Regions from separate parts of the Homo sapiens genome. Here all the other regions are linked to region 2. The links come from fine-mapping of genetic effects on gene expression. A gene starts in region 2. Each other region holds a variant in brackets. All regions are shown on one strand. Distances are between the middles of the regions. Region 1 overlaps CDH4 (cadherin 4). Region 2 holds the start of MTG2 (mitochondrial ribosome associated GTPase 2). Region 3 holds the start of HRH3 (histamine receptor H3). Region 4 overlaps MTG2 (mitochondrial ribosome associated GTPase 2).

Region 1 (8,099 bases), 860 kb after region 2:
TTGCATGTACTAAAGGTGACGGCAAGATGAGAGGCCCCTCCTCTCCAGGGAGAGCCCCCTTCAGTGTTCCTGCATAGCCACAGTCCCTGTGGCCCCAACCTAGAAACCCAAGCATCCAGAATGTGCTCTGATTGCCGAACTGGTGACTAAAACACCCACGAAGACGCCAGTCTTGGTAAATTATCACCGTCAGGGAGCAGGGGTGGGGAGGGGTTGCAGGCCCGCGTAACATGACAGAATGGTGGCAGAAGCTGAATGTCACTGGCTCCGACGTCAGGTGGCCAAAGAATTATAGGCATCACACATTATTTTGTGTTTGGTGTATTGTTTCTTCCTGTGCATGGATTCAGCCAACTGAATAGAACTTTCCAATCAGGCTGCACGTGAGCCATGAATGCCTGGTGGAGGTGAAGCACTCACTCGATGAAGACTTTCCCAAACATCCCCTCCTGGCAGGCTGATGAACAAATGTGTGATGAGTTCATGCAGAGGCCAAGACGAGGGGACAGGGGCTGACCTGCCACCCACTCGGGACACTGGGCTGCCCTGCAGCTAGTGGCAATCACTCCTAACGAAGAGAAGTCCTCTAGGTGCACACTCCCCTAGGGAAAGCCAGCTGACTCTCAGAAGACCCCGTGCCGCAAGGGAATCCTCATGCCTCCTTGCTATCCTCTTGCCACCGTCATTCCTAATACTCAAATTTGGAGAGGCGAGGGGTATATCCGGCAGTGCGTCCTGGGCAGATAAGCTCAGGCCCTTGGATGCTGGCTGGAAGTCTCAACTCTGCACCTGTGAAATGACAGGGAGGATCCTTGAATGTTCTAGAGCTCAGTGTTCCTATCTGTAAAAGATAACAAGACCTCCTGACAGCCTGGGACATAAAAGGGGACACCAGGGATAGAGCCTGTTGTGTGAAGAGCATCCAATACACTCTTGAAGAAATGCACTGCTGCGATCAAAGGCCTCTGCACAAGTCCACTGGGAACTGAACCAGGGGCCCCCACCCCAGTCTGTCACTTTCCTCTCCAGTTGTGAGTGTTCCGCTCCCTGCCATCTATCTGTTCCTTCCAGGATGCTACCCCTCGGTGGCTGCGTCTCAGCGTTGGATGAAGTGAACATATTGTGTGGCTGGCAAACAGCCTTGCCTGGAAAGGGCTCTGGGACAAAAGCTGCTCTGGGCACAGCTTCCTGCTGCCTCAGCACACCCCAGGATCCCGAATGCTGCAGTGACAGCCACTGCACACACCAGGACCCAGGAGGGGATTCAGGCACCAAGGAAGGGACTCATCCTGGGCTGTAAAGGGAGACAGAGAATCTTGACTTCTTTCTCCCTTCATGCCAGTCTGGGAAGGAAAGGGGAGGCGGCTCAGATACTGCAGGAGCCAGGTCTCCGCTCAGTTCAGCTGCAGGTGTGGGCTGCGGATCCTGATGCCGGCACCTCCCAGCTGCTGCGGGAGAGACTGAGCCTGGTGCACCCACAGAGCCAGGCGAAGCCTCAGGTGCAGAATTAGCAGCCTCCCCTCTCCTGTGTATGTGGGGAGTTGGAGGGGATGGGGGGTAGTTAGTCAAATGAGGAACGTTAGCTCCCAACCACAGGCCAGCAGAGTGCAAAGCACACAGACGGCACCAACCCCATTGCACTGAATGAATAAATAACCATCCCCGAAGCAAGTACAAGGACCCGGAAGAACTGCTGGACCCGAATCCTGGGGTTCGTATCCTGGGGGGACCTCTGACCAACCACGTAACCTCAAGCATGGGGTTTCATGTTCAATGTCACCTTCCTGAGCCTCAGTTTCCCCACCTGTAAAATGGGGATAATAATGCAGCTCCTTGTTATATTATTATATAATATTTATTATTATAATATATGCTACAATATATTATTCTTATATGTTATATTGTTATGCTTATTGTAAGACTGCAGAGAGGACTGAGCTAAGGAACATGAGGTGAGCGTCTTTGGCAGCTATTGGACAAGGGCTCAGTGCTGTCACCTGTTAACATCATGGAAACTAAGTCATCTGTTGATCACGGCATCATGTGACATGCGTGGCACGCAGCATCTCCCAGGCCTGTGCTGAGAAGCACCAATTCTGCAGGCTACTCCAGGGAGGCGGCTCTGCCATCAAATAGTGGCAACGGCTGAATTTGACGAAGCCGGAAGTCCTCCGCTCACCGCACGTCTACATGGAAGGTGTCAGCACATACATCAGGTACCCAAGTACCCAAGGGAGATGAGGCCACGTGGTGTCTTCCAAACACACTGACCCGTGGAAAAAAATCCTTATATTCTCTCTCACACACACACACAATGTGAAATGTTTTAAGGAAAACTTAACAACATTAGCATTCCAAGGCTATATTTTTTAAGACATCAAAAATTAAAAAAAAATTTCCAGCAAAAAAGCAAAGATAATCAAGCCGTTTTTTGTTAAGAGTAACCCCGCCTCTGGAATTAGCAGAACCTGCCTCGCCTCCTCCCTCTGCCCTCCTAAGGTGAAACCCGCTCTTCCCTAGATCAATGAGAAGACTCTATTCATTTCCCAGGAAATTAACTGTTCTAATTTGCAGAGTTAAATAAACGCCAGAGCTCTCTGACCTCAATCAACGACTAATGAGACCCACAGAGCCTTCTCTCTCTTCCTCTCTCTCGCATGCGCTCTCGAGGTGGAAATGTGCGGTGTGGCTGACCACAGGCGGGACTAGGTAGGTCAATGCCACCCCACCGAGGACCCACGGTGTCAGGGGACCCTGGGGAAGGACCCGGGGGTTTAAAAGGCTAGAGCAGCTGGACAGAGCCAGCCTGGAGGAGAGACCTGGGACACTTCCCCACAGCAGGGGCAGGAAGAGGAGCTCCCCTGGCTCCCGCCTAGGCCTGGAGCCTGTGCACCCCGCCCTGCCCACATACTGTCTTCACGCCACAGCCCTGCCCACCCCTCCAGCCACCTGGCCGTGTCCCCACACTCCCTCCCAGCACAGGACCTCTGCGCACGCTGCTCCCTTTGCCCAGGCCCCTTTCCTGCCTCTTCATCTGCTTGGCTCCTGTTCATCTTCAGGTCTCACTAAAGCCAGGCTTCCTCGACCTCAGCAGTGCTGACACCTGGGGCTGAAGGGTTCTCTGCTGGGAGGCAGCCCTGGGTAGGGCACTTGGCAGCACCCCTGCTCCCACCTCCCAGATGCAAATAGCACCCCCATCCCCCACTCACAAACATCAATGTCTCCAGATATTGCCAAGTGCTCTCTGGGGGCAGAACTGTCCCAGTTGAGACCCTCTGGCTGAAGTAAAACATTTCATGGTAGTGGCTGAGACCACCAGGTCACCGCTCCCTGTGGAGGCCAACCCAACCCCACCGACACTCCAGTCTCACCCACACCTGCATGGTTTTGTGGTTGGTGCTCCTCTTGCCCACCAGGCTGTGAGCCCCCAGGGACTAGAAAAATGACACCCTGTGCCTAGCACTGGGTCTGACCCACGGCAGATGCTCAAAGATGCTGGTTGAATGAGCAAATGAACAATCGTGACAAAAACTGAAACAAGGAACGCAGGGAGAAGACACAGTCAGCATGCATAAGACGCCTTGGGAAGAGACCCTCAGGCTCTTCTGGAAATCCATAGGCCCTGCAACATCAGCAACACCGAGGCCCAAATAAATGCAGAGAGGGAACAGTCCCACCTGGGAGATGCTGCAAAAATACGAGCAATTTTGCAAAAATTATTGTGGGAAGAACATTTAACATGAGATCTATCCTCAACAAATTTCAAGTGCTCAACAAAATACCATTGGCTGGATGTTCTGCAGTGGATCTTCAGAATCTATTCACCATTTTTTTTTTTTTTTAGATGGAGTCTTACTCTGTCACCCAGGCTGGAGTGCAGTGGCATAATCTCGGCTTACTGCATCCTTCGCCTCCCAGGTTCAAGTGATTCTCCCGCCTCAACCTCCTGAGTAGCTAAGGACTACAGGTGCCTGACACCA[C/T]GCCTGGTTAATTTTGTTTTTTTTTTTTTTAATTGAGATGGTGTTTTACCATGTTTTGGCCAGGGTGGTCTTGAACTCCTGGGCTCAAGTGATCCATCCACCTCCACCTCCCAAAGTGCTGGGATTACAGGCATGCGCCACTGTGCCCAGCCAGAACTTATTCATCTTGTATAATTGAAACTTTATATCCCTTGAATAGTGACTTCCCATTTCCCCTGCCCCAGCCCCAGGCAACCACCTACCATATGATCCAGCAATCCCACTTCTGGGTATTTATCCAAAAGAACTGAAATCAGATCTCAAAGAGACCTCCGCATGCCCGTGCTCATTGCAGCATTATTCAGCAAAGCCAAGATACGGAAGCCTTGATGAGCCCACAAGGTGGACGGATGAATGAGGCTGCACATGTGATGCACTCTTAACAGTGCGATCTAGCCCTGCTTCCCGGTGGAGCATAACAGGGAATTTTTAATCGATGAATTCTCTGACCTGGGAAATGTTAGCAATCCCAGTGTGTCCTTTTGGCCCTACACACGTCACCTTCCTGAGCCTCAGTTTCCCCACCTGTAAAATGGGGATAATAATGCACCTGCTTATTGTATTATTATATATTATAATATTTATTATAACATGTTATATGTTATATTTTTATATGTTATATTATTATGCTTATTGTAATACTACAGAGAGGGCTGAGCTAAGGACCATGAGGTGAGCGTCTTTGGCAGCTACAGGGCAAGCGCTCAGTGCTGTCACCTGTTAAGATCGTGGAAACTAAGTCATCTGTTTATCACGGCATCATGTGACATGCATGGTGTGCAGCATCTCCATATCAGTGTGTGGTGCCCCACCATGGCTCAGGCCGATGGCAGCATCATTGCGGGCAAGGAGGGGTCTCTGCCCAGCTCTCTACCACCGGCATCTGTGCAGTGGCAGGCACAGAGAGGGTGACTGGGCATTTGTGAATAAACGAATGAAAAGAAACATTACATGGGAAAAGGGGCAAGTCACCACTTCAACTCAATCAGTGCATATCCAGGGATTACTCTCTCTGTGCCAAACAAGTGGTAGTAATTAATAACATAAAGCCAAAGAGCTCAACACGCTTCTTGACCTCACTGAGCTTCTAATTTCCTCATCAGTGGCTATGCATTGAGCATGTATTCTGACTGAGTATCACTGATTCCAGGCTCCTCCTGGGCACGAACCAGGCCTTCTGGACCATGGTGCCCTTCTAGAGCGCATGCCCACATCATAGCCTCCAGCAATCCCTACCCGATTCATGATCTAATAATAAAACCAAATGGATAAGGTTTTCTTAGGAGAGTCCCAGTTAATCCTAAGAGATGAGGCAAGGGGTAAAGGAGAAAAAAAAAGAACGTCAGTTCAAATCATTGTCACACGCTTAGGTTTTTGAATCATTCAAAGCAGTAAATCTTGGACAGGATCAAACAAAACCCAAGGCTGCATCCGCTGGCACTCACTGCTGGTCAGCTGAGCACTGTGAATCCCAGGCTGGTGTCTTCTGCAAAGCCGGGGCTGTTGGGAAACTTCACTCCAGATGGAGAGGAACATACGGGAGAGTCGTCAACGCAAAGCAAACTGCTGTCTAAACAGGAGCCGGGCAGTTTAACATCTATTAGGATGGTGAGTTCCCCTTTCACACATCCTGCCACCACAACAGCACAGGGTGGGGGCGCATGGGTCCCACCTCCAGGTTTCAGGTGAAAAGTGTCCCTCCAGCCGGGACGGAGAGCAGGAAACCACCCTCCAGCCCTTTAGTCTCTCTGGGTCTCTTAACCTCTACCCATTTAGGTTTGCTAAGAACAAACACAGTTGGCGTTTTCCTCCAATAAGTGTGCACAACACTTCACAGTTGCAATGGCTGGATCATTCTGTTTTTCCCTAAATGCCATGGGGCATTAACTCTACTTTTACCCCACTCTGACATGTCCCTTGAGGAAACTCGTGCAAATTCACCCTTGCTGGCTGGCTGGACACCCACAAATTCACACGGAAAAAACGCTTCCCAGAAGTGCCCTTTGTCTAGAACCGTGGGGGTCTCGGGCATGGTGGAAAGGGGGTCCCTGCTCCCAGGGGACACTGGGCAACATCTAGAGGCATTTTTGGTTGTGGCACCTAGGGGAGGGGTGCTACCAGCCTCCAGTGGGTGCCAGCCTGGGAGTCTGCTCAACACCATACAGTGCACAGGACGCCCCACCACAGACTCATCCAGCCCCCCATGCCTGTGGCGTCAGGAAACCTGGTCTGGAGCAATGGTGAATGCAGGCTTTGGCAGGCACGTGAGCTGGGAGATGCAATGGGCCACAGACCTCCCCATCCAATCAGGTCACGAGGGTGGGGGCTGCTAATAAACACTTCAATGCAAACAGATTTGATAGAATTTACAGTGCAGGCACCTGGAGACTCAGTGGCAAAGGCGCCTTAATTTATCCCATGTTAGAAATAGCAGGTTATTCGGGAGGCTGAGGCAGGAGAATGGCGTGAAACCGGGAGGCGGAGCTTGCAGTGAGCCAAGATCAAGTCACTGCCAGGACTGCGGGCGCTCGCCACCACAGCTGGCTAATTTGTTGTATTTTTAGTAGAGACGGGGTTTCACCGTGTTAGCCAGGATGGTCTTGATCTCCTCACCTCGTGATCCACCCACCTCGGCCTCCCAAAGTGCCGGGATCACAGGCATGAGCCACCGCACCTGGCCAGGAAATATATTTGAACATGGTATTCAGATTTCTAAATAGTAATAAAAATAATAAGTATATAAATAAACTAAAAAAAAAAAAAGAAATAGCAGGTTACGTGCAAGACTTATCACTCCACTGCAAGGCACGTCTTTAAAGGCTGCTGCCAGACGTTCAGGTACAGAGGCTGCACGCACCTGAGGGAGGCTGGAGGACCCACGTCCAGGCGCCTCCCCACCCAGCCCTGCTTCTCGGCTGTGACTATCATGCTGTACAAATGGCTAAAACAAAAAGGGTGGCCAGGCCCCAGCTCTGGGCAACGATGACTCAGAAAGAGAAACTCCCCTCACCCGAAAAGCAGAGGCGGCGGCTCTAACGACAGCAAAGTCCAACTTCACTTTCATCCTTTTTCACATGGCCAGCATTTCTTCACTACCAATTAACCAATCTGTTTGATCAAACCTTCCACCCATCAGTCAGCAACATTTGTGGCCTACTAAATTAATTGCGCTGAAAAGCAACCACTTTCCCTTTAACAAGCAAAGCGATCCCTGCTTCGAGGATGCAGCAGATGGCAGATGGGAAGGGAGAGAGACAGAAACCTGATAAGAGGGAGCTGATGACTTTATTCTTCCTCCCAGCCAAAGGTTTGTTCCGTCTCTGTTGGAACAACACATTTGTTCTGCCGCCTGAACTTGATTTAGGGGGCCAAGTGGACTTTTTCAAACTTGTTAGAGCCTTCAACTTATCGACTTAGGTCAGCGCGGCGGTCTCTATCTGCGGGCCGCAGTGCCTTTTCCATCTCCGATGTTCCAGAAAATTAGATTTTCCTTGTCCTAACTTCTTCCGATGGATTGGATTTTGAAAAATGCAGATCTGTCAAGAAGTCTATCCAAAATTGCCCTTCTGTTTGGGAAGTAAACTTCCATTTCTTGTTTCATAGACTGCCCTGAAACCTGCCCCATCCTAACCCAAAGGAACTTGCCAACAGCACCCAGGAGGAAGAGGAGGACGTGAATTAGGAAAACTGAGTCCTGTCTTCAAAGGGAAGCTGCCAAATCCTTCCTCCCCCTGGAGAGCCCCTCAGTGCCTGCATCAGAAACCCAGCTTCCAGGGCCCTGTGGAAATCGCCTGTTCCCTTGGAAGTCCTCCACCCAGGGGCAGATCACTTGAGCTCAGGAGTTTGAAAGTAGCCTGGGCAACATGGTGGGACCCCATCTCTACAAAAAATACAAAAAACAAAAAATTAGCTGGACATGGTGGTGTACACCTGTAGTCCTAGCTACTCAGGAGGCTTATGTGGAAAGATTGCTTGAGACCATGAGTTTGAGGCTGTAGTGAGCTATGATCGCACCACTGCACTCCAGCATGGGTGACAGAGCAAGACCATGTCTTAAACAAAAAATGATAATGAAAACGT
Region 2 (8,099 bases):
GAGGCTAGTACCAAAATCTGACACTAAGAAAAAATAAAATTATAGACCATACCCCTCATGAATATAGATGCAAATAACTCTTAACAAAATATTACCCAATTGAATCCAGCAGTTCAGAAAGGATCACACATCAAGACCTAGTAGGGGTAATCTCAGAACACAAGGCCACATCAAGCAGTCAAAACTCAGCCCAGGCACTTCACTATATCAACAGGTGGTACCACCGTCTCAACACCCACTCATGAGGAGGAAAACAAAACATCTCAGCAAACTGGGAACAGACGGGAACATCTTCGCCCTGATAAGGGCACTACGTAGGGCCGGCCGACAGCTAATCACATTTAATGAAGAAATACTGAATGGTTACCTCCCAAGATGGAGAAAAAGGGCCTCCACACATACCACTGCTATGCAACAATGTCCTTTCACACACTGAAATAAAGGGGGAAAAAAGGAAGAAGTAAAACTGTCCCTGTTTACAGAAGAGAGGACAGAGTTCCACAGAGAATCCCAGGGAAGGCTGGGCACGGTGGCTCATGCCTGTAATCCCAGCACTTTGGGAGGCCGAGGTGGGCGGATCATTTGAGATCAGGAGTTCAAGACCAGCGTGGCCAACATGGTGAAACCCCATCTCTACTAAAAATATAAAAATTAGCCAGGCGTGGTGGCACGTGCCTGTAGTCCCGGCTACTCGGGAGGCTGAGGCAGGAGAATCGCTTGAACCTGGGAGGCAGACGCTGCCGTGAGCCGAGATCACGTTACCGCACTCCAGCCTGGGTGACAGAGCAAGACTCCATCTCAAAAAAAAAAAAAAAAAACAAAAAAAAAAGTCCCAGGGAAGGGAACTGAGCAAGATGGCATGTTATCAGGCTAATATAAAAAAATCAGTTGTATTCTTAAATACCAGCCGCAAACAACTGTAAATTAAAATTAAGAAAAAACCCCATTTATGGTAGTGCCAAATACAAAAAGTACCTGAAAATAATTTCACAGTAAACCTTCAAGACCTCTACCTCACTACTTGCAAAATACTGTTCTAAGTATTTTTCAGGGATTAACTCATTCAGTCCTCATAAAACTCTGTGAAGTAAGTCCTTCATCATCCTCATTTTAAAGTTGCGGAAACTGGGCAGACAGGTGAAGAGACTTAACCCAGAGCTATCAGATGGGAAGGCTCAGGGGTGGTGCATAAAAACAGGTTGGGGAAAAACAACTCGGGCTCATCAACACAAGCATAGCCACGGCTCAGCCTGCTGGAACGTTACACCATCCAGCCCGGATATTCTGGAAACCAGGCTTCCTGATGCAGGTGACATGGAACCTGCAGATCAACCGCAGAGAAGGTTGCAAAGCCAACCAGAGACCTGAACTCGGAGTCTTGCCTAATTTGCTTCCTCCTTTTTGCCCTTTCAATTTCTCTTTGGAGGCCCGCTGAGTGCTGTGCTCTCTCCCCTGCCGGATGAACAAATCCCACTGTTTTCACGCTGCTCTTTGGTGTCTTTATTTTCCTTCCAACAAGGCTGTCCTTGACCTGTCCAGCACAGTCCCCACTGGCCAAATGTGGCCATTTGGCTAAAATTAACTGAAATGTAAAAACTCAGTCCCTGAGGTAACATCTAAGTGCACACAGCCACATGTCACGAGTGGGTACATATGGGACAGCACATATTAGAACACTGCCCTCATCACAGAAAGGTTTTTTTTTGAGACAAGAGTCTCACTCTGTCTCACTCCCAGGCTGGAGTGCAATAGCATGATCTCACCTCACTGCAACCTTCGCCTCCTGGGTTCAAGCAATTCTTGTGCTTCAGCGTTCCAAGAAGCTGGGATTACAGGCACCCATCACCACGCTCAGCTAATTTGTGTACATACATATACATGTATATATATGTATGTGTATATATTTTATTTTTTATTTTTTATTTTTATTTTTTTTGGAGACAGTCTCGCTCTGTCGCCCAGGCTGGAGTGCAGTGGCATGATCTCAGCTCACTGCAACCTCTGCCTCCCGGGTTCAAGGGATTCTCCTGCCTCAACCTCCCGAGTAGCTGGGATTACAGCTGCATGCCACCACGCCCAGCTAATTTTTGTATTTTTAGTAGAGACAGGGTTTCACCATGTTGGCCAGGCTGGTCTTGAACTCCTGATCTCGTGATCCGCCCACCTCAGCCTCCCAAATTGCTGGGATTACAAGCATCAGCCACCACGCCCTGGCCATTTTTTTTCTTTTTTATTTGAGGCAGAGTTTCACTCTTGTAGCCCAGGTTGGAGAGCAATGGTGGGATCTTGGCTCACTGTAACCTCCGCCTCATGGGTTCAAGTGATCCACTCGCCTCAGCCTCCCGAGTACCTGGGATTACATGCACCCACCACCACACCCAGCTCATTTTTGTATTTTTAATAGAGACGGGGTTTCACCGTGTTGGCCAGGCTGGTCTTGAACTCCCGACTTCAGGAAATCCACCTGCCTCGGCCCCCCAAAGTGCTGGGATTACAGGCGCGAGCCACCACACCCAACCAATATATCCACTTTTAAATGTATTCCTAACGATAATACCCTGCGAGGGGTAATACTGCATGCCGAGCTATCTTCCATTTGCTTTTCCAGACCAGCTTTCCACCCTGCCCTGTGCTGTGTGTCAGGAGCCTGAGCTTGCCCCATAGGAAAACCTACTGGGACCTGGCCCTCTACCAGAGACTGGAGGCAGGAGCAGGAGGCCGGGACATGGACCTCCCTGCCCACTCAGACTGAGGCTCACACCTCCAGTCCAAGAAGCCCTCCCCAGTGACTCTTCTCCCTGTCCCGATCACTGCTGCCTTCCCTGATCCTTTGGAGTCCAGGAGTAGAAACTCCACTGCCACCAGTTCCAGGCTAAAGGACCAACTGTCATTAACCTGCACTCTGCCTTTGCAAACGGTCCCTTTATAAACCCTCCTCAAATCCTCCTGTGAGCATGAAACCTGATTTTTTTTTTTTGGGTATGTTTTTGAGACAGAGTCTCGCTCTGTTGCCTAGGCTGGAGCAGAGTGGTGCGGTCTCGGCTCACTGCAACCTCCACCTCCCAGGTTCAAGCGATTCTCCTGCCTCAGCCTCCCCAGTAGCTGGGATTACAGGCGCCTGCCACCACGCCCGGCTACTTTTTTGTATTTTTAGTAGAGATGGGGTTTCACCATGTTGGCCAGGCTGGTCTTTAACTCCTGACCTCGTGATCTGCCCGCCTTGGCCTCCCAAAGTTCTGGGATTACAGGCGTGAGCCACCGCGCCCAGCGGAAACCTGATTCTTGACTTTACATTTTTTATGCCCATCTAAAGCAGTGGAGGCTGAGACTCACAGAGGTTCAGTCACTTGCCCAAAGTCACATAGTATCCTCTGGCCTCCCTGGCATGCTGCTGACACCTGCATTTTACGGCAGGAATCTTCTCACTGAGGTTCGCCTACACAGACTTCCCAAGGGACTAAGGCCAGGATAATTTCAAAGGAATCCATTTTCTGCCCAAGTTTCGCTACGTTCTCTCTGCTAAAACAGAACTGCCTGAGGACGAACCTGCGTTTAAAACAATTTGAATTCTCCTTTCCCGTCCCCCTTTTATAATGGGTCCTCCCCTTTACAAAAGAAAGGTATTTCTCTAGTGACACTGCCCAACAACCCCTCTAATTCCCACCTACAGGTCTGTGTGAACGCCGTTCCTCGGTATCCACAGCTACGAGAACGTAAATGGGAATAGAACGGGTAACCCGCTCTCACTGGGCAGAAGCCAGCCACGGACAGTGAATTATCTGGAAATGCGTCTCCCTGAGGCGCGTTTACAATACAAAACTTTATTGTTGTTTTATCATCCAAATGTGTATATATTTATGTTGTTTTGTGCAACTGTATACTGCCAATAATCACTTTAAAATGTTTAATACTTAGAGCGCTGGATCAAGGCAAATTCCTAACAACTTGACTCGGAACTCACACACGGCACCCATCCCGTGACAGAGCACCACCGGGGTGGCTGACAAGACTTCTGACCCCAAAACGCGGTTCTGCGGAGAGAGTGGGGCAGGACCGGGGAGCAAGGCGCCGCTCCCCACCGCCCGAGCGCTCGCTACTCCAGGGCCGCAGCGCTCGGTCCCGCCGGGGTTCGCAGCCCGGCAGCCCTCCAGGCCTCTCAGCTCCTAGGCCGGGGCCTCTCCCGCTCCCAGCGCCCCGGTACCCCGCGGCCCAAGCCGAGGCCCCTCCTTGCGCCCGGGCCGCGACCACCCCCCAGGCCCACGCTCCCCGCTCCCCGCTCCCGCACTCACCGGCTCGGGAAAGCACGTCACTTCCGGAGCGTCGCAAGCGGCCGACCACTTCCGGGGCCTTTTGGCTCCGGAAGCCCAAGGCTTGCCCAGTGCGCAGGTGCAGAAAACACGCCGACGGACCGAGAGGCGACCTTGTCCCTGGTAGCGGAAGCAGGAGCAACGGCAGGAGGGATGCGGAGCGCTCAGCTGCAGCCGCGCTTCTCGCCGGCGCCCTCGCTGCCCGAGCACAAGGACAGCCGCCCCGCCCGTTCCACCCGGTGCCCAAGGTCCCCCAGCTTCTCTGACCCCTCCGGCGTTTGCGGAACCTCCCGGGTCTGACGAGGACACCGCCGTTGCCCGAGGAGGCTACGGGGCAACGCAGAGCAGGCAGTGGGGACCGCAGGGCAGCCCCGGGGCGCCGTCCCCACCGCCCTTACCCTGGCTTCGCCTTGCCGCCGCGGGGAATCCGGTGCGGACGCACGCGAACTCTGCCCGGGAGCCGAGGTGACGATCTACCTGGTCTCGGTAATAAGTATTTGCAAAACACATCACACCAAAATCCCGTTAACTTCATGAAAACTCACTTTATAGGATGATTTTTGAAGAACCAGTTTATTAAGAGATTACACCAAAAGCATAAACAATTTATACGTCAAACTCCGACTGAAAAAAAAATAACCGATAAGGATGTTTTTTAAATGTACTGTACTCACAAATAACAAGACAAATTTGACCTGTTCAATAAATAGAAATGAAGTGGCTAAAAATGTTTAAATGGAAATGGAAAACAGTCGTCTTCTTTGTACAGTTTTGAAGGGGTGCCCCCTATTCACGCCTACACGTAGAAAAACCCTGACAAAATCAGAGGTTCACTTAACACTCCAACCATATGAGCGTATTAAGGTTTCTTTTCAGATCTTAGGAGATCTTGTCCACCTTAATCCCATTCACAGATCTTAGGAGATCTTGTCCACCTTAATCCCATCATAAAGACTGTTGGCATGAGTTCTGATGTACTGTTTTAATATGCTGAGTACTGTTGATTCAACAACAAACCTTAATGGGTGATGAGCTTTTGCATACCAATATGAATTTGTCAGCACTTCTGAAAACTGGCCATCATTTTTCAAATTCACAATTTGCTGGATGTCAGGGAACAATAGGAAGAAGAATGAGCGTCAATTTTCATGTCTTCCTTTGCTTCTTCACTGGCCTTCCATAGAAGTAGTCAGAAAAAAACAAAGCACCATCAACCACACTTCACAAACAATTCATGTTGGCCTAAGCTTTGCTCAACATTCATATGACAGAAGATAGAATAATGAAAAGGAACTGCTGGCATCACTTTCCCCATAATATTACATAAAAATGGACAGCACATTAAATAAACATTCTGTTATTAATCATTAAATATATTAACACCAAAAATCATGTATAAATTAGGAAATAAATGTACAAACTATTTTGCAAAGTGCTTTTTAAAATATATACACAACATTCAAGATATTCTTAATGTAAGACATTTCAGATTGAAGTTTTGGGGTAAGTGTCCTTTTCTTTCAGAAAGTATTATTAATACAGCACTTAAAAAAACACACAAACACACAAAAAAGGCATATTCCCAGATTGGCAAGGAATAAAAATAAACTATCTTCACAGTTATCTAAAATGTTTAACATTTTCAGTGGGAAATTTTAGTCCCCGATTGAGTTTGCAAATTAGGTCTATGAAAATTGACAGGAAAAGAACACAATCAAGGGAGATGACTCCCTAACTGAAATTGCTAACGCGTTTGTCAATTAGCAATTAAGAACTCTCATTTCGGTGATCGAATATGAACACATACGTTTATTTTTGAGCCCTTACCAGTGTTAAGGGTTTTAGAAACCCTTAGTGCCTACAAAATAAACACTTCTCTCCCCATTTGTGCGTGACATCCGTCTCCTAGGAGAGGGGAGAATGTCCTAGAACAGGACTGGTATTCAACACAGGCAAGTCCTTTAATCTGTGCCTCAGTTCTTCATCTCTAAAATGGGAACTGTTACCTGCCTCCAGATTTCCTCATAGGGGCTGTCAGAATTAATTCAAGCAAAACACATAAGTGACTTATAAATTCTAAAGCACCCGACTCTGGATAAAGAATTAATTTTAACTTATTTATTTATTTATTTATTTATTTTTTTGAGACGGAATTTCACTCTTGTTGCCTAGGCTCGGGTGCAATGGTGCGATCTTGCCCCACCACAACCTCTGTCTCCTGGGTTCAAGCCATTCTCCTGCCTCAGGTTCCCGAGTAGCTGGGATTACAGGTATGCACCACCATACCTGGCTAATTTTGTATTTTTAGTAGGGACGGGGTTTCTCCATGTTGGTCAGGCTGGTCTCGAACTCCCGACCTCAGGTGATCCGCCCGCTTCGGCCTCCCAAAGTGCTGGGATTACAGGCGTGAACCACCACGCCAAGAATTACTTTTAACTTTTAAAACAAAACATCAATTAAAGAGAAATATCGTTATTACTAGGCCTCATATATCAAGCATTGGATATCTCTTGTATTTTCTTGGTAGTTCTTGGAAATCTGTCAGCATTTATCCAAAGATTTTTTTAAAAGGATTCATAGCAAATATGAATATTATTATTCCAACTAAAGGTTGATCAAATGTCCATGCTACTTGTTAATTGAAATGTGGGATTTTTTTCCTTTGACCATACTTTTGCAAGTGTGCTGTCTTTAATGTTCACACAGAATTTAAATGGGATTTAATGTCTTAGAAATGTAAAAATTACTCAAGTTTCTCTATATAAAACCTTTACTTTTCATTAGAAAGAACACAGTAATGTAACTGGATGTGACTTTCAGACATCCCTAAAAGAAAAGAAATGCTTGCTTGGAGATCTGAGCAAGTAGGTCCTGGAAGAAATAATATAAAATAAACAACTTGCCAACTGTTGGGAAGATTTGGTTTGAATATTTAAAATTACCTATCAACTTAGAATTGGGCTTATTAAATATTCCAATCCCAGAAATGACCATCAGCTAAACAAGGGTCAAAGCCAGAGTAATCTCTGAGGGCCCACTTCCCAGAGAGCTGCCCCTTTCCTTCAGCAATACCGCTGGCCCTGGGTTAGGCAATTTGTCCACGGCCCTTAGGGATTCATATTTATTTGGAATACAGTCACTGATCCCTGTTTACTTTTTAATACAAAAACATGTACCTTTTTGGATAAACGGAATTGGCGAGAGACAGGCAATGGGCAAGCTCTGGAAGTGGCCATCTGTGGCCTCTCCCGTGGGAGATGTTTATCCTTTTCGTTACGTAACAGAAACTGACCCAACGCACAGAAGATGCCCTCCCACCCACCCCATCGAGGCACAGGAAGAGGCTGCCCTCCAGGGGCTGCATGTGTGTCCAGCTGTGGCGTAGCCAGTTAAAGAAAAGTTGACAACCCACACTACAACACTGCATGAGGAGGAAAATGAGACCTAACGTCTGTTGACGGGAACAGGTGGACTGTGGTGTCCTCGAGATCTGTCCTGTCCCTGGGCACAGAATGCTCTGATGACAAAATGACCCCCAAAGCTAGCTAGAAACATTGAGAAGGGGGCGGGGGACAAAAAAAGGATACCTCTCCGTGTACCGACATACAATACTATACACAGCACCAAAAGTATCACACCACCAAGCGCTGTCTCACGCCAGTGGTGTGCGCTCGGCGTCATACCCAGCATGAAATGAGCACGCTTCACATGCAGACGTGGCACTGGGCGAACAGGTAACCAACATGTCACAATTCACCAGAGCTGCCGCCAGCCCATCCGGCCCCTGGATGA
Region 3 (8,099 bases), 33 kb before region 2:
TGGCACCCAGGGTCCGTGCAAACGGGAGGTGGAGCGGACCCCTGGTCTGGGCACCGGCTTTCCAAGACCCCCTCCTCCCCATCCCTTCTCCTCCAGACGTTCCTTGCCCCGGAGACCCACATTCCCAAAACATGCACCGAGGAAATGCCCCGCAGGGCAAGTCCCCGGAGCGCGGGTGCAGGCGTTTCCCCCACCCCCACCCCGGGTCCCCACAGGCGCCAGGGCTCTCCATGATGACCGGGCAGGGGTCACCAGGGCCGAGGGCACGGGAAAGGCCGAGCAACCCAGACCCCGGCTCCGAGTGCGCGGGCTGACTGACCGCAGGCGAGCCCCCAGACCCGGTCAAGCCCCGGCCGGGCTCCCAGCCAGCTGCTGTGAGCGCAGGGGCTGGGCTCCAGGCAGCCTGGCGGGCACGCGGCGCTGTCCGTGGTGCTGCCGGCGCCGGGCGGGGCGGGGGCGGGGAGGGGGCGGGGCGAGGGCGGCAGCCAATGGCGGGGGCGCTGCGCGGGGCGCGCGGGGCGGTGGGCTGGGCGCGGGGCGCACTCGGCTGCGCGTTGCGCTCCGGCTGCACGGTCGCACCGGCAGCGGCTCAGGCTCCGGCTCCTCTCCCGCTGCAGCAGCCGCGCTGCCGGCCCCACTGGGCTCGGATCCGGCCCCGGCCCCCTCGGCACCGCCTGCTCTGGCCCCGGCCCCGGCCCCGCGGACCATGCGCTGGGCGCCCCCAGGGGAACCCGACCCGGCCAAGGGCCCGCAAAGACGAGGCTCCCGGGCCGGGGCCCCTCCCGGCCGCCCAGCTCTCGGCCGGCGCCCTGCCCCGCGTCCCGGAGCCGCGTGAGCCTGCGGGGCCATGGAGCGCGCGCCGCCCGACGGGCCGCTGAACGCTTCGGGGGCGCTGGCGGGCGAGGCGGCGGCGGCGGGCGGGGCGCGCGGCTTCTCGGCAGCCTGGACCGCGGTGCTGGCCGCGCTCATGGCGCTGCTCATCGTGGCCACGGTGCTGGGCAACGCGCTGGTCATGCTCGCCTTCGTGGCCGACTCGAGCCTCCGCACCCAGAACAACTTCTTCCTGCTCAACCTCGCCATCTCCGACTTCCTCGTCGGTAAATCCCCAGCCCCTGGCCGCTGGGGACCCAGGGGCGCCCAGCGTGGCCGGGCCAGCGGGGACTGGAACACGGACCTGGGTGGCTCCCGCAGGCACACGCCCCACCAGGGGACCCGGCCTGGGAAGGGGGCGTCCGGAGCCCATGGGGTGGGGGGCACAGGCGAAGTTCCTTGCCACTCAGGCCTCGGGACAGGGGCTGGGGAGAGATGTCCCCGGGAAGGGACACGGGCACTGGGCGAGGCGCAAGGCGCAAAGGCAGCGGGTGCAGCTCTGGCTCCTGCGCTGTAGCCAAACAAAGGCTGCTGCGGACTTAGGACGCGCGGAGGGCGCAGTGGGGCGGTTTAGAGAAGGTCTGGGGGAGGGGACATGGAAGGGGGATTTTTAGAGCTGTGTTGGGGGAAGGGACGGTGGGGAAGGTGGGGGTTGGGGGAGACGCTCGGAGGAGCGTGCTCTCACGTGTCCAGGCTCTGCTGCCGGCTGGGGGGCGGGGCACGCGGAGGGGGCTGGAGCGCCAGACACCTGTTGGGGCTGTGAGGTGCGTCTCCCAGACGCTCCAAGCCCGCTTGGCAGTAGTAGTAGCGGCTGGCGGCTGGCGGCTGCAACCAAGTGCCCTTTCAGCCAGGAGAAAGGCTTTCTCCTTGTCTAAGCTGAGACCGAGGGTTGTCCAGCGCCAGGGTAGGGGCTGGAGTCCAGCGGGGGAGGGGAGAAGGAAATTGTCTTCTTTCCTCCTTTGAGGGCTGGGAGGGCTGGACAGAAGTCCAGGGAATCCCGACTCCAGGCTCTCGGGGGTCTTGTGGTGGCCAGAGTTCCCCATGCCTGGATCATCCCTCCTGCCCCCAGGCCCAGGGGACACAGATAGTGCTGGGAGCTATGTGGGGGTGAAGGCTGGCGGCAGGGCAGAGTTTGTGGCTGACACCAGGTGGAGGGGTGGTAAGATGAGGATGGCTAGTTCCAGAAAAGCAGCCACCATGTGACCCCAGGTCCCGCCGGTGTCTGCGCTTAGGTCCGTCTGTCCCCTGGCCCCTGGCTGCATGGTCCCACTGTGGCCCTACTCCCCACAGGCGCCTTCTGCATCCCACTGTATGTACCCTACGTGCTGACAGGCCGCTGGACCTTCGGCCGGGGCCTCTGCAAGCTGTGGCTGGTAGTGGACTACCTGCTGTGCACCTCCTCTGCCTTCAACATCGTGCTCATCAGCTACGACCGCTTCCTGTCGGTCACCCGAGCGGTGAGTCCTGGGCTGCGGAGCTCCTGTTCACTCCGCAGGGACAGTCGGGACGCCCATGGGAGGCACCTGGGTGGGGACGGCCACTTCTGAGTTGTGGGCAGAAGTGGGCTTGGTCCCACTGGCTTTGCTGCTGACACATGGGCCACTCGACGGCCAGCTGCCCACTCGGGGCCATGGCTGCAGCCAGACTGACCTGGCCCAGGCAGGAGACGGGGAATCTGGATGCAGATGGTCCTGAAGGCAGGGCTGTCGCTGCAGCCCCCGCCCTGGGGCAGGTCCACAGTCCCCGGAGTTAAGGGAGGATCTGGGGCCAGACGCCCTGGGTGACATCCCTCCCACATGCGTGTGTGCAGCGTGCACACACACACAGGCCCCGGGAAGGCAGGCGGCAGATCCTGGCTCCGCAGATTTCCCTTTGTGGGAGCGGCCACCTGAGTCAGGGACCCTGCCCCACCCAGGCTCCCGCATCGGGGCCATGCAGCCCAGGGAGCCGCTGCTGAAGTCACACCTTCCCCTTCTCATCTCCTTGGCAGCTCACGTCCCCAGGGCTTTATGAGGGCCTCTGCAGGACTGAGGGCAGGTTGTTTGGTTCTAGCCTAGAAAGGCTAAGAGACAGGGTGCAAAGAGCATGGCTTTGGGTTCCTCTTGAGCCCATCCCCCTGTGGTCTCTCCCTCCTTTCCTGGAGCCACCAGGCATGGGGCACAAGGAGAGCTGCCACGAAGGGTAAAGCGGCCGAGCAGAGAGCCTGGCATGGGGGTGCTCTGCCCACCTCTCATTAGCAATAGCTGTGAACATTGCTCCCACCGTCACCAAGGTAAACGCCATCAGGCTGGTGGGGGAGGGTGGCAGGGGCTCTCAGGTCCTCCTCCTCGAGCTGTCCTACCTGAGACCCCTCAGTGGGATCCCTTGGCCCTCCTGCCCCCTGCCCCCACCAGCTGGTTGCTCTCTGCCCTGAGGAGGGCCCTGCCCTCTCTCCCTCTTCTTCCCAAGAGGCCCTGATGTCGATCTGGGATGCTTTGTTCTGTGGCGGGGCGGGGGATGTCTCCCAGCAGTGGGCCAACTTGTGGCTTCACCCCTGCACCTCCAGCTCCCAGGGGTGCGAGCACCTGTGCAGGAGTGGGGCTGGACCTCCCACCCCAACCTCTGCAGATGGCTCGGGCCTTTGCAGGATCAGGATGCATCATGTCAGAAACAGCTGTGTGTGCACGTGGTCTGGGGCTGATGCTGAGTCTGGTCCCAAGGGTGCAGGGGCCAAGGACAGGACCCCCAGGGAGCTCACAGCTGGTAGGGGGTGGTAAACAGGCAGCCTAGCAGAGAGTGAGGGTTCAGGTTGGTCCCAGGGAGCTTCTGAGGCTCTCACTGAGTGTGGCAGGGCACCAGTCCGGGACCCCAGTGGGGAGGGTTAGAGGAAGGGAGGGGAAAGAGGGAGGGAGGGAGGACAGGAGGGGAAAGGAGGAGCATTGCTGCTGAGGGAAGGGCCCACATAGGGGCCCACAGGCTACGGGGGCGCACCCAGCCCAATATTCCTTCCGCCCCGCCCCTGACCAGCCTGCCCTTCTGCAGGTCTCATACCGGGCCCAGCAGGGTGACACGCGGCGGGCAGTGCGGAAGATGCTGCTGGTGTGGGTGCTGGCCTTCCTGCTGTACGGACCAGCCATCCTGAGCTGGGAGTACCTGTCCGGGGGCAGCTCCATCCCCGAGGGCCACTGCTATGCCGAGTTCTTCTACAACTGGTACTTCCTCATCACGGCTTCCACCCTGGAGTTCTTTACGCCCTTCCTCAGCGTCACCTTCTTTAACCTCAGCATCTACCTGAACATCCAGAGGCGCACCCGCCTCCGGCTGGATGGGGCTCGAGAGGCAGCCGGCCCCGAGCCCCCTCCCGAGGCCCAGCCCTCACCACCCCCACCGCCTGGCTGCTGGGGCTGCTGGCAGAAGGGGCACGGGGAGGCCATGCCGCTGCACAGGTATGGGGTGGGTGAGGCGGCCGTAGGCGCTGAGGCCGGGGAGGCGACCCTCGGGGGTGGCGGTGGGGGCGGCTCCGTGGCTTCACCCACCTCCAGCTCCGGCAGCTCCTCGAGGGGCACTGAGAGGCCGCGCTCACTCAAGAGGGGCTCCAAGCCGTCGGCGTCCTCGGCCTC[G/A]CTGGAGAAGCGCATGAAGATGGTGTCCCAGAGCTTCACCCAGCGCTTTCGGCTGTCTCGGGACAGGAAAGTGGCCAAGTCGCTGGCCGTCATCGTGAGCATCTTTGGGCTCTGCTGGGCCCCATACACGCTGCTGATGATCATCCGGGCCGCCTGCCATGGCCACTGCGTCCCTGACTACTGGTACGAAACCTCCTTCTGGCTCCTGTGGGCCAACTCGGCTGTCAACCCTGTCCTCTACCCTCTGTGCCACCACAGCTTCCGCCGGGCCTTCACCAAGCTGCTCTGCCCCCAGAAGCTCAAAATCCAGCCCCACAGCTCCCTGGAGCACTGCTGGAAGTGAGTGGCCCACCAGAGCCTCCCTCAGCCACGCCTCTCTCAGCCCAGGTCTCCTGGGCATCTGGCCCTGCTGCCCCCTACCCGGCTCGTTCCCCCAGGGGTGAGCCCCGCCGTGTCTGTGGCCCTCTCTTAATGCCACGGCAGCCACCCTGCCATGGAGGCGCCTTCCTGGGTTGGCCAGAGGGCCCCTCACTGGCTGGACTGGAGGCTGGGTGGCCGGCCCTGCCCCCCACATTCTGGCTCCACCGGGAGGGACAGTCTGGAGGTCCCAGACATGCTGCCCACCCCCTGCTGGTGCCCACCCTTCGCAGTTACTGGTTGGTGTTCTTCCCAAAGCAAGCACCTGGGTGTGCTCCAGGCTTCCTGCCCTAGCAGTTTGCCTCTGCACGTGCACACACCTGCACACCCCTGCACACACCTGCACACCGTCCCTCTCCCCGGACAAGCCCAGGACACTGCCTTTGCTGCCTTCTGTCTCTTGCATAAGCCTCAGGCCTGGCCCTTTCACCCCTCTTCCCACCAACTCTCTCTGCCCCCAAAAGTGTCAAGGGGCCCTAGGAACCTCGAAGCTGTTCTCTGCTTTTCCATTCTGGGTGTTTTCAGAAAGATGAAGAAGAAAACATGTCTGTGAACTTGATGTTCCTGGGATGTTTAATCAAGAGAGACAAAATTGCTGAGGAGCTCAGGGCTGGATTGGCAGGTGTGGGCTCCCACGCCCTCCTCCCTCCGCTAAGGCTTCCGGCTGAGCTGTGCCAGCTGCTTCTGCCCACCCCGCCTCTGGGCTCACACCAGCCCTGGTGGCCAAGCCTGCCCCGGCCACTCTGTTTGCTCACCCAGGACCTCTGGGGGTTGTTGGGAGGAGGGGGCCCGGCTGGGCCCGAGGGTCCCAAGGCGTGCAGGGGCGGTCCAGAGGAGGTGCCCGGGCAGGGGCCGCTTCGCCATGTGCTGTGCACCCGTGCCACGCGCTCTGCATGCTCCTCTGCCTGTGCCCGCTGCGCTGCCCTGCAAACCGTGAGGTCACAATAAAGTGTATTTTTTTATTGGTGCTGATTCCTGAGGACTTTGTGGGGTGCTCAGAGCCTTCGTGCTTTGAGGAGAGACTCCAGGGAGTCCAGAAACCACTGAGAAGCAGGCGTGAGGATGAGGGCTCTGTGTTTTCTTCTAAGTCGGGGGACTGCAGTGGGGATGAAAGACCAGCCTGCCACACCAGGGTTTAATCCCAAGAAGGGTTTCATGTGCCCTACCGCCAGACCCCTGCACTTCTCAAGACCTGGCTGGCGGGTGAGGAGATGCAGCCCACGCCCTGCACAGGAGGGGCCCGCTCTGGCCCTGAGAACACAGACATGCAGCCTTCCTGCCCCCAGGACAGGTGCCTCATCTTTCTTGGTCAGGAGCAGGGTTGCACCCCAGCAAAACTTGGGACCCAGGGAGGATCATGGCCATGCCCAGCGTGTGCAGGGTCTGGGTGGCAAAGGGACTGCAGTGACCAGAGGGGAGGGATTGGGCTAGCTGGCTGGAGCTAGGCTGGAGGGGCTGCTAGAAGGGATGAGCCCTGGAGCGAAGGCATCTTTGGGAGAGGAGCTGTCCTGGACAAAGGCCTGGAGGGGGGACTGAGGGTGCAGGATGAGGACGCTGGGAGGAAGATGGAGGGAGGGAAGGTAGCACCCTTCGCTGTGGCCCGTGAGCCTTTAATCCCGAAGGCCGTTGCACCTGCTCCAGGGGCCCCAGGAGAGGGAGGCAGACACCAGCCCGAACCCAGGCAGATGCTGGCCCACACCCAGGTGCTCAGAGGCCACTTGGAAACCAGACAAGCCCAACCTAGGTGAGATGCAAACTCGGTGGGCCAGGTGCCACCTCCCCCAACGTCCCGTCCCCCAGCTCCAGCCTCCAGGGTCCTGACGTCTCTGAGCCCACTCTACTTCCGACAGTGCAGCCTTGCTAGGCACGCTTCTGCTCATATCTTTCCTTCCTACCCAGGGAGAGAATCTCGCCATTTTCTGGCTACTCTCACAGCCAGTGCTGGGGGTGGGTGGAGGGTCCACCTGGGCAGGGAGACCTGCATCTCCCCCTCAAAGCACCGCTTCCCAGCCATGCCGGCTCTCAGCACTGCAGAGGGGAAGCTAACAGCAAAATGCCTCACCTCCAGACCTTTTTCACGCCCTGAAGCTAGAAGCTAGACCTGCACTTTTGTTTTCCAAACTCCCCGGAAACTTCTCCCAGAATCTGAAGCTCCACACCCCCCTCCAACCCCCATCCCCACTCTCCTTCCCCCCCATCCCTGCTCTCCCTTCCCCCATCCCCGCTCTCCCTCCCCCATCCCCGCTCTCCTTCCCCCACCCATCCCCGCTCTCCTTCCCCCCCATCCCTGCTCTCCCTTCCCCCATCCCCGCTCTCCCTCCCCCATCCCCGCTCTCCTTCCCCCACCCATCCCCGCTCTCCTTCCCCCCCATCCCTGCTCTCCCTTCCCCCATCCCCGCTCTCCTTCCCCCATCCCCGCTCTCCTTACCCCCCATCCCCGCTCTCCTTACCCCCCATCCCTGCTCTCCCTTCCCCCATCCCCGCTCTCCCTCCCCCATCCCCGCTCTCCTTCCCCCACCCATCCCCGCTCTCCTTCCCCCACCCATCCCCACTCTCCTTCCCCCACCCATCCCCACTCTCCTTCCCCCCCATCCTTGCTCTCCCTTCCCCCATCCCCGCTCTCCCTCCCCCATCCCCGCTCTCCTTACCCCCCATCCCCGCTCTCCTTACCCCCCATCCCTGCTCTCCCTTCCCCCATCCCCGCTCTCCCTCCCCCATCCCCGCTCTCCTTCCCCCACCCATCCCCGCTCTCCTTACCCCCCCCATCCCCGCTCTCCTTCCCCCACCCATCCCCACTCTCCTTACCCCCCATCCCCGCTCTCCTTCCCCCACCCATCCCCGCTCTCCTTACCCCCCATCCCCGCTCTCCTTCCCCCACCCATCCCCGCTCTCCTTCCCCCACCCATCCCCGCTCTCCTTACCCCCCATCCCCACTCTCCCTCCCCCCATCCCCGCTCTCCTTCCCCCACCCATCCCCCCTCTCCTTACCCCCCCATCCCTGCTCTCCTTCCCCCACCCATCCCCCCTCTCCTTACCCCCCATCCCTGCTCTCCTTCCGGCTCCTGGACTTCTGACTGCCTCCCAGACACTCAAGTGACCCCTCCGAGACAGGCTCCTCTTCCTGGGCAGAAGCCACACAAGGCCCCTCTTAGTGACAGAGGGAGGGGCAAGACTGGGGACACCTGGGCCTTCTTCATAATTCTAGCCCCAGCC
Region 4 (8,099 bases), 19 kb before region 2:
GTAGAGGGAACCATCGTGTGTGACCTCCTGGCACTGGCTCTCCCCGGCTTGACACCTGCGGTCCCCAGGTGGACGCCATGCACGCAGAGCTGCACCCCGCCCCCGCCAAGCACTGCCGCACCCCGCGGCTCTGCAGCCTCTTTAGCGGCACCAGGACAGGTCCCCGGCACGTGTGTTCACTGATGAGACGCTCCGGTTGCCTCAGCATGTCTGCCCTTCAGGCCTCCATCCCGGGGCCAGCGCCGACCCGGGCACTGCATACAGACAAACGAGGTCTCTGTTCTCCAGGAGCTTAGGGCGGGGGGGCGACGGCGGCTAACGTGAAGTGTGGAAAGTGCGTGCACGAGAGGGTGGTGGGCCCAACTGTGCAGAGCCTGGGCGCGTGTGGCTGTCTTTGGCTTTTTGACTAGAGGGCATTTCACGGGGTGTCTGGGCAGGGCACTGGGTCACAGGGATCAGCAACACCAAAGCCTGCAGTCCAAGGAGTGGCCTCAGCATGGCTCAGACATAGGAAGGGGCAGTGGGGCTGGTGCTGTGGGCACCAGGGACTCCCAGTGAGGGGCCTGGCTTCCTGGCACAGCCACAGGGGAAGACTGAGGGGCCCGGGCACCAAGTAGGGGAGACATTAGCAGGCCACTGCCATCGTCCAGAGCGGGGTGGAGGTGACAGGCATGGCGGGACCTGGGGTGGACCCGAGGGCAGAGCTGCTGTGCTGGCGAGGTGAGGAGGCAAAGGCCCCACGCGAGACTGAACTCAGTATAGCACGTGCGCCGGGAAGCACACACGACCACAAGATGGGAAGGGAGGCTGGGAGTGGAGGCTCACACCTGCAGTCCCAGCACTGTGGGAGGCTGAGGCGGGCAAATCGCCTGAGCTCAGGAGCTCGGGACCAGCCTGGCCAACATGGTGAAACCCTGGCTCTACTAAAAATACGAAAATTAGCTGGGCATGGTGGTACATTTCTGTAATCCTAGCTATTCAGAAGGCTGAGGCAGGAGAATCGCTTGAACCTGGGAGGTGGAGGTTGCAGTGAGCCAAAATCGCGCCACTGCACTCCAGCCTGCATGACAGAGCAAGACTCTGCACCACCCCCACCGCCGCCAAAAAAAAAGATGGAAAGGGACATTGCTTGGGGTCAAACAACGTGCCCCCAAATCCACATCCACAGAACCTCAGAATATCACTATTGGAAATGGGGTCTGTGCAAATGTAACTAAAGATCTCAAGATGGGACCATCCTGGGTTTAGAGAGGCCCAAATCCCACAACTGGCTTCCAGAAGATAAGAGGACAGACACACAGGGGGAAGTTACATGAAGACAGGGCAGGGACGGGAGCCTTTGCCACTGCTAGCCGAGGATGGAGCAGGAAGGACCTCCCTGGCCTTGAGAGGCCTCACCCCCGACAAACAAGAGAATCCACTTAGGTTTTTTTTGTTTTTTTTTTTTTTTTTTCTTGAGACAGAGTCTCACTGTGTCGCCCAGGATGGAGTGCAGTGGCGCAATCTTGGCTCAAGTGATCAGGGGTTCAAGCGATTCTCCTGCCTCAGCCTCCTGGGTAGCTGGGACTACAGGTATGGGCCACCACCCCTAGCTAATTTTTACATATTTTTTAGTAGAGATGGGGTTTCACCATGTTGGCCAGGCTGGTCCTAAACTCCTGACCCCAGGTGATCCGGCCGCCTCGGCCTCCCACAGCGCTAGATGACAGGTGTAAGCCCCCATGCTCGGCCAACTTCTGTTAAGTCACCCGGTTTGTGGCACTTTGTCATAGCAGCCCCAGGAGACTAATAAGGAATAGATAAAACTTCATTTTCAAATGGACACACTACGTTTTCCTACAGCGCTGCTGTGGAGCTGGGCTTCTACAGGGGATGCTCAGGGCAAACCCCTCCTCGCCCGTGTCCAAGTGGAAGGTGGCAGGGCCCCAGGGCACCCAGACTCCACCCCACCTGGGCTGCGGCAGGAGAACTGCTTGAACCCAGGAGTCGGAGGTTGCAGTGAGTGGAGATCGCGCCACTGCACTCCAGCCTGGGTGACAGAGTGAGACTCCATCTCTCTCTCTCTCTCTCTCTCTCTCTCTCTCTCTCTCACACACACACACACACACACACACACACACACACACACACACACACACACACACTGAGTTTCAGGCCAGGCGCAGTGGCTCATGCCGGTAATCCCGGCACTTTGGGAGGCCAAAGTGGGCAGATCACCTGAGGTCAGGGGTTCGAGACCAGCCTGGCCAACATGGTGAAACCTTGTCTCTACTAAAAATACAAAAATCAGCCAGGCGTGGTGGTGCAGGCTGTAATCCCAGCTACTTGGGAGGCTAAGGCAGGAGAATCGCTTGAACCCAGGAGGCAGAGGTTGCAGTGAGCCGAGATCGCACCACTGCACTCTAGCCTGGGCGAAAGAGTGAGACTCTGTCTTAAAAAAATAAAAACAAAAGTAAAAATAGTTTAAAACTAGGAGCAGCCTGAAGGCTCCTCATGCCAGCGCCATCCTCCGTGCACCTGCCAGCGCTTACTGACGCCGTCTCTGGGTCAGGTGTTCTGAGGCTGCTGGGGATACACAGAGACCCTGTGTCCAAGGCAGCCCACACATGCTGACTGTGGGGGGGTTGGCCTGCACCCGCGGTCCCTTCCGTAACTAAAGACTGCGGTGTCGGCCGCCTCAGGCATGGCTACTAAAGACCCGCACAGACGGCCACATAGTGTACACTCCAATTACAGGATCTGTCTGGAAGGCAGGTCCCTGGGGACAGAAGGTAGACGGGTGGGTGCCCGGGGGAGGGGGAAGGCGGGTTCACGCTAACGGGCACAGGGTCTGTTTTCGGGGTGATGAAAACGTTCTGGAATTTGCAGTTTGACAGTTGCACAACCTTCTGAACATACAAAAAAACCACTGAATTATATAAAGTGGTGAATTTTATGGTATGTGAATCATATATCCCATTTGAAAAGCAGACTGACAAAAATTTGTTTCTAGGCAGGAAACAGGAAACTGGGGAAGCCAAGTGTAGCTTTACCCTACTCAGGGAGAACAGTGTTGGAGAGAAAGCTGTCAGCTTTTAGAACGCGATGGCAAAAGCTGTGTGTGTGGCAGGGAGAAGTCTTGGGGCTTTTTGCAGCAAGGAAAGTTCTGGGCAACCTTCGTGGCAGTGACTCCCCCTCTGGAGCCTCAGCTTCAGCAAAGGACGAGGGCATGTCCCCAGAGCAGCCACAGTCAGGCCCAGATCAAGGTTTCAACCCACGGGGAGGCTGGGCTGGGGGCTCCGTGCAGGGGTCGAGCCACAAGGCATCTTGAGCCTCCCCTGCAAGAGCAT[C/A]AAGATGAAAGCCAGGGATAATTAACGCCGTCAGGCCTGGGGCGACTCCACAAAATCCTTTGTGGCGGCCTGAAAGAAAAAGCAAATAGATGCAAAACCCATCTCTGGTTTCTAGGATAGAAGGACCTTTGAAATTATAAGACATTAAAATAAAGCTTCGGGTAAAAGGACTGTCATGTTCTAGCTGCAGATTTGATGTGAGATCAAAACGGAATTGCTCCTGAAAGCCCAGGCACCGGCCTGCTGTGCAAAGCGCGCCCCACCCCAGCGTGCAGAGACGCGGCCCCGGACCCTTGCGGCTCATCTCACCTGAGGCTGCCGTCTCTCCTCCAAGGGCTGGGGGTCCCCTTCTGATCATCCTTCTCTGCTTCTTTGTCCCCTCCACTTTTTTTTTTTTTTTGAGATGGAGTCTTGCTCTGTCGCTCAGGCTGGAGTGCAGTGGTGTGATCTCGGCTCACTGCAAGCTCCGCCTCCCAGGTTCACGCCATTCTCCTGCTTCAGCCTCCCGAGTAGCTGGGACTACAGGTGACCGCCACCACGCCTGGCTAATTTTTTTGTATTTTTAGTAGAGACGGGGTTTCACTGTGTTAGCCAGGATGGTCTCAATCTCCTGACCTTGTGATCCACCAGCCTCGGCCTCCCAAAGTGCTGGGACTACAGGCATGAGCCACCGTGCCCAGAATGTTCTGTTTTTGTTTGTTTGTTTGTTTGTTTTTTGAGACAGGGTCTCGCTCTGTCACTCAGGCTGGAGTGCAGTGGTGCAATCACGGCTCACTGCAGCCTTGACCTCCCAGGCTCACATGATCCTCCCACGACAGCCTCTGGAGTGTCCCCTCCACTTTCTTTCTTAGGGGCCCCTCAGGGACATGTCAGAGGCCTGAGACTACTTGGGGGATGTCTATGGGCCAGGCAGGCTGCCAGCAGCTGAGCTGTCCTTGCCCTGGGGCTCCTCTGCAGTCAGGGAGACACCAGGCATGGGCCTGGCTTGGATGCATCAGTACTTGACTGCAAAGACTTAAACCACAGACAGGAAAGGCGCTGCTGCAGTCTCGACGGTCAAATGCAGGGCCCCCTCAGCTGCCATCCCACTGAGGGGCGAAGGCCCATCATCTCCCTTCGGCTCGGTAACTGCCTGGCGTAGCACAAGGGTTCTCTTTAAATCCCCAGCAAATGGAGCTGAGTGGAAATTCCGCCCCATATTACCAGGCACACGTCTCCTTCCACTCCTCACTATACCCTGCCCATGCCACGGCCGCCTTCTGAGAATAACGCTGACAGTTCCATGGCCCACAGCCCCTCTAGTTAACTTGCTGTGCACACGGCAGCCCAGCCAGAAACACGCAGCCAGGTCGGATATTGGGTGCATTCAGTCGTGAAGCCTGAGGCTTCCTGGCTCCCACTGAGCACAGAGAAGTGTTCTGAAGGACAGGAAGCAGCTGGCCTCACTGCTCTTCTCAGACGGCTGATGGAGAAAAGCTCACAGCTGCCTGCGCCGCTCTGCCTGGACTTGCATCCTCGGCCCCACCCCTTGCGCAGCAGTGAGGCCCCCCGAGACACTGGTGCCTGGGCTTGCGGTACCGCAGGGCTGCTGGACAACGGGCCAGACGCAGCCCCAGTGTGGATCCAGAGGTCTCTCTCCGTAGCAAGCCATGGAAGCACGACGGGCACTGTGCTGAGAACCCTGGTCTGCACTTCTGACCTGGGGCTCTGGCTGTGCGGTTCTGCTGAGCTCATCCGAGAGTCCACGCGTGCATGGCGGAGACCTGAGTCAGCGGCAGGGCCACCCCGTTATGGGCACCCCAACCCCTTATTAGGGGTGTTAATCAGCACAAATGAGCAACTGGCTCATCAGTCGGTGCAGGCTGACAGGTGCAGGAAATACGGAGGGCAGGCGGGGTAGGGGGCACGGAATGCTTCCCAACATGAGGGCATCTCAGGCCAGCAGGCGGGGCCCAGAGACCCAGAAGCACCACAACTCCCCCGTGTCCACAAGGCACTTTATGCATTCAAAACCACCGAATTCACACCCAGGTTTGCTCAGACAGAGGCCCAGAGGCGACCCCGCTCTGGCGTGGCTACCACCTGAGCGGCTGGCGGCCCTGGCCCAGCTCGGCCTCCGCGTAGGCGTCATACAGCACCTTCAGGTGCAACAGCAGCTGCTCCAGGTTCTCGCCGGTCAACGCCGACAGCACGATGACCTCCTGTCCCAAGTGATCCCGGAGCTGGGACAGATTGGCTTGGGCTTCAGGGAGGTCAATCTTGTTTGCGACGATTGCGTGGGGCCTCGCAGACAGGCCCTTTTCATACATCTCCAGTTCATATTTTAAATCGTCAACTTGAGTCCACGGCTCAGGCTGAGAAAGATCCACCACGAACAAGAGAAAGCGGCAGCGCTCGATGTGCCTGAGGAAGGCGGACCCCAGACCCCTGTTCTGGTGGGCGCCTCGTATGATGCCGGGGATGTCGGCCACTGCAGGGAAGACAGGGGCACACGAGGTGACCACTTGGCACACCCAGCACCCAAGAGCGCCTTCCACCTCGAGCCTGGGAGAGAAGGCCTGGAGCCCACTGCGAAGGCGGATTTCCTGAGTTCTAACACTTTCCTTTCAAGGAACGCCTTGAACTGAAGCCATTTGATTTAGCACCTGGGTGATTCACTGGGCCAACTGACACCTGAGGAATTCAATGCTTGGAGATGTTTGGGAGACCAGCGTGGCGATGGATCTATCTAGTAGAGTACATTTCATACCTTCTCTTTCTGCTTCTAATAGGATTCAAAAAAGAGGAAAATGGCTGCCTGTACTCTACTAATCATTTGATTACTGATAGAAATTTACATGTAGAGTACTCTGCAGATATAAAGTGCCATCCAAATAACCTTACCAGCAGGCTTACTATTTTTAATGGGTGTATTGTCTTCTGGGAAAAAGTTTTATTCTCTCAAACGGCACAAGGAAAGCTTTTAAGTCACGTGTTGTGATGCTGCTGAGCTTCCACAGATGAGAGGGGACAAATAGAGTGGGAAGAAATACTGTCCTCGGCTGGAATTTCAATGCAGGTTTCTGAACTGTAACTGACAGATTCCTAGGGGATGGGGTGGGAACCTGATTTTCATAGAGAACAGGCTGATGAAAATTGTTTAAATTAGGGCCAGGTGCAGTAGCTCACGCCTGTAATCCCAACACTTTGGGAGACCAAGGTGGGGCGGGGGGCAGATCACTTGAGATCAGGAGTTCGAGACCAGCCTGGCCAACATGGTGAAACCCCGTCTCTACTAAAAATACAAAAAAATTAACTGGGCGTGGTGGCGCACGCCTGTAATCCCAGCTACTTGGGAGGCTGAGGCAGGAGAATCACTTAAATATGGGAGGTGGAGGTTGCAGTGAGCTGAGATCGCACCACTGCACTCCAGCCAGGGTGACAGAGTGAGACTCCGTCTCAAAAAAAAAAAAAAAAAAAAGTTGTTTACATTAGGAAAAACAATGCTACTTTTTTTTTTTTTTTTTTGAGATGGAGTTTCGCTCTGTCGCCCAGGCTGGAGTGCAGTGGCATGATCTCGGCTCACTGCAAGCTTTGCCTTCTGGGTTCATGCCATTCTCCATCCTCAGCCTCCCAAGTAGCTGGGACTACAGGTGCCCGCCACCACACCCAGCTAATTTTTTTGTATTTTTAGTAGAGACGGGGTTTCACCATGTTAGCCAGGATGGTGTCGATCTCCTGACCTCGTGATCCGCCTGCCTCGGCCTCCCAAAGTGCTGGGGTTACAGGTGTGAGCCACCACGCCTGGCCAACAATGCTACATTTTAAACAGAAAGCTAAATTTAAGAGTTACATCATTACTTTTCTGAATTACATCATTTAAATCTAACCTTTGGGAGAATTCTGGAAGTTCTACCTGCTATTTGTAGGTGGCCTTCGTAGTGGACGATCCCGACGTGGGGCTTCAGGGTGGTGAACGGGTAGGAAGCCACGGCGGGTCTGGCGTTTGAAATGGCCCGGAGCAGTGAGGACTTCCCGGCGTTGGGGAATCCCACCTGGGGGAAAGAGGGAAGACGGTGGCACGGCCCGCGGCAGCACCTTTGTTAGCGCAGAGTCTGTAACTAACTGGGATTGGAGGGAGGATTTCAGGGCTGGGGGAGTCACAAGGGCTCATGCTCACGACCAAGTCAGCAGTGTACTGATGGGAAAAAGGTGAGTCGCAAAGCTGTTCTCTTCCAGGCCACTGGCAAATCCCCATTGAGAAAAGTGGATTTTCTAGAGCTGAGTGTGTGCAGATGCTGTTGGCAGTGGGGACACCTACCATTCCGGCGTGGGCCACCGTCTTGAGCTCCAGGTGGAGAACTCGCTGCTGTCCTGGCTGTCCAGGGGTACAGGTCACAGGGGCACGGTTGTTGTTGGCCAGGAAGAAGCGGTTGCCTTTCCCTCCTGCCCCGCCCAGCGCGGCAATGTACTCATCTCCCACGCAAGACAGGTCGGCCACAACTCTGCCTCCCTCCTTCACCAGCGTGCCCACGGGGACCTGGGGAACAGCAGGCACTCATCAGCTGAGCTCTACCAGCAGTGAGGAAAGGAGGCCTTAACCCATTCCTGAAGCAAGCGCTAAGGAAAGAAGACAAGAGCGGACTGTGCCCCGGGCAGCTGCCCGCCCCACTCACCTCTGCCAACAGCTCCGGAGCACAAGGAAAAGGTCCCAGTGCTCCAGGGCTTTCACGGGGCTGCGTACACACCCTTCTGACTGCACAAAGGGCTTTTTCAAATAGTGTTTCTAAA

Evidence for each region.
Region 1: its variant is fine-mapped to the expression of MTG2 in prefrontal cortex (GTEx, PIP 0.99).
Region 3: its variant is fine-mapped to the expression of MTG2 in left ventricle (GTEx, PIP above 0.99).
Region 4: its variant is fine-mapped to the expression of MTG2 in whole blood (TOPMed, PIP above 0.99).

The regions. Positions count from the first base shown.
Region 1 is chr20:61,315,697-61,323,795 of GRCh38, reverse strand. All of the region lies in intron 2 of CDH4 (cadherin 4), which reads right to left. Among named protein-coding and RNA genes, the nearest start is that of CDH4, 67 kb to the right of the region's middle. RefSeq lists an enhancer at 5,658-6,533. The variant C/T (reference allele first, on the strand shown) is at 3,981.
Region 2 is chr20:62,179,248-62,187,346 of GRCh38, reverse strand. MTG2 (mitochondrial ribosome associated GTPase 2) reads right to left here and starts at 4,319. Exons shown (of 7, transcript NM_015666.4): 1 at 4,290-4,319. SS18L1 (SS18L1 subunit of BAF chromatin remodeling complex) reads right to left here. Exons shown (of 11, transcript NM_198935.3): 11 at 4,833-8,099. RefSeq lists silencers at 4,101-4,270, 4,277-4,461, 4,501-4,690.
Region 3 is chr20:62,212,719-62,220,817 of GRCh38, reverse strand. HRH3 (histamine receptor H3) reads left to right here and starts at 540. Exons shown (of 3, transcript NM_007232.3): 1 at 540-1,097; 2 at 2,161-2,327; 3 at 3,892-5,858. The coding sequence starts at 848. The coding sequence ends at 4,812. RefSeq lists a silencer at 326-435 and an enhancer at 5,995-6,495. The variant G/A (reference allele first, on the strand shown) is at 4,470.
Region 4 is chr20:62,198,383-62,206,481 of GRCh38, reverse strand. MTG2 (mitochondrial ribosome associated GTPase 2) reads right to left here. Exons shown (of 7, transcript NM_015666.4): 5 at 7,630-7,848; 6 at 7,225-7,363; 7 at 2,914-5,799. The coding sequence ends at 5,405. Among named protein-coding and RNA genes, the nearest start is that of HRH3, 18 kb to the left of the region's middle. The variant C/A (reference allele first, on the strand shown) is at 3,330.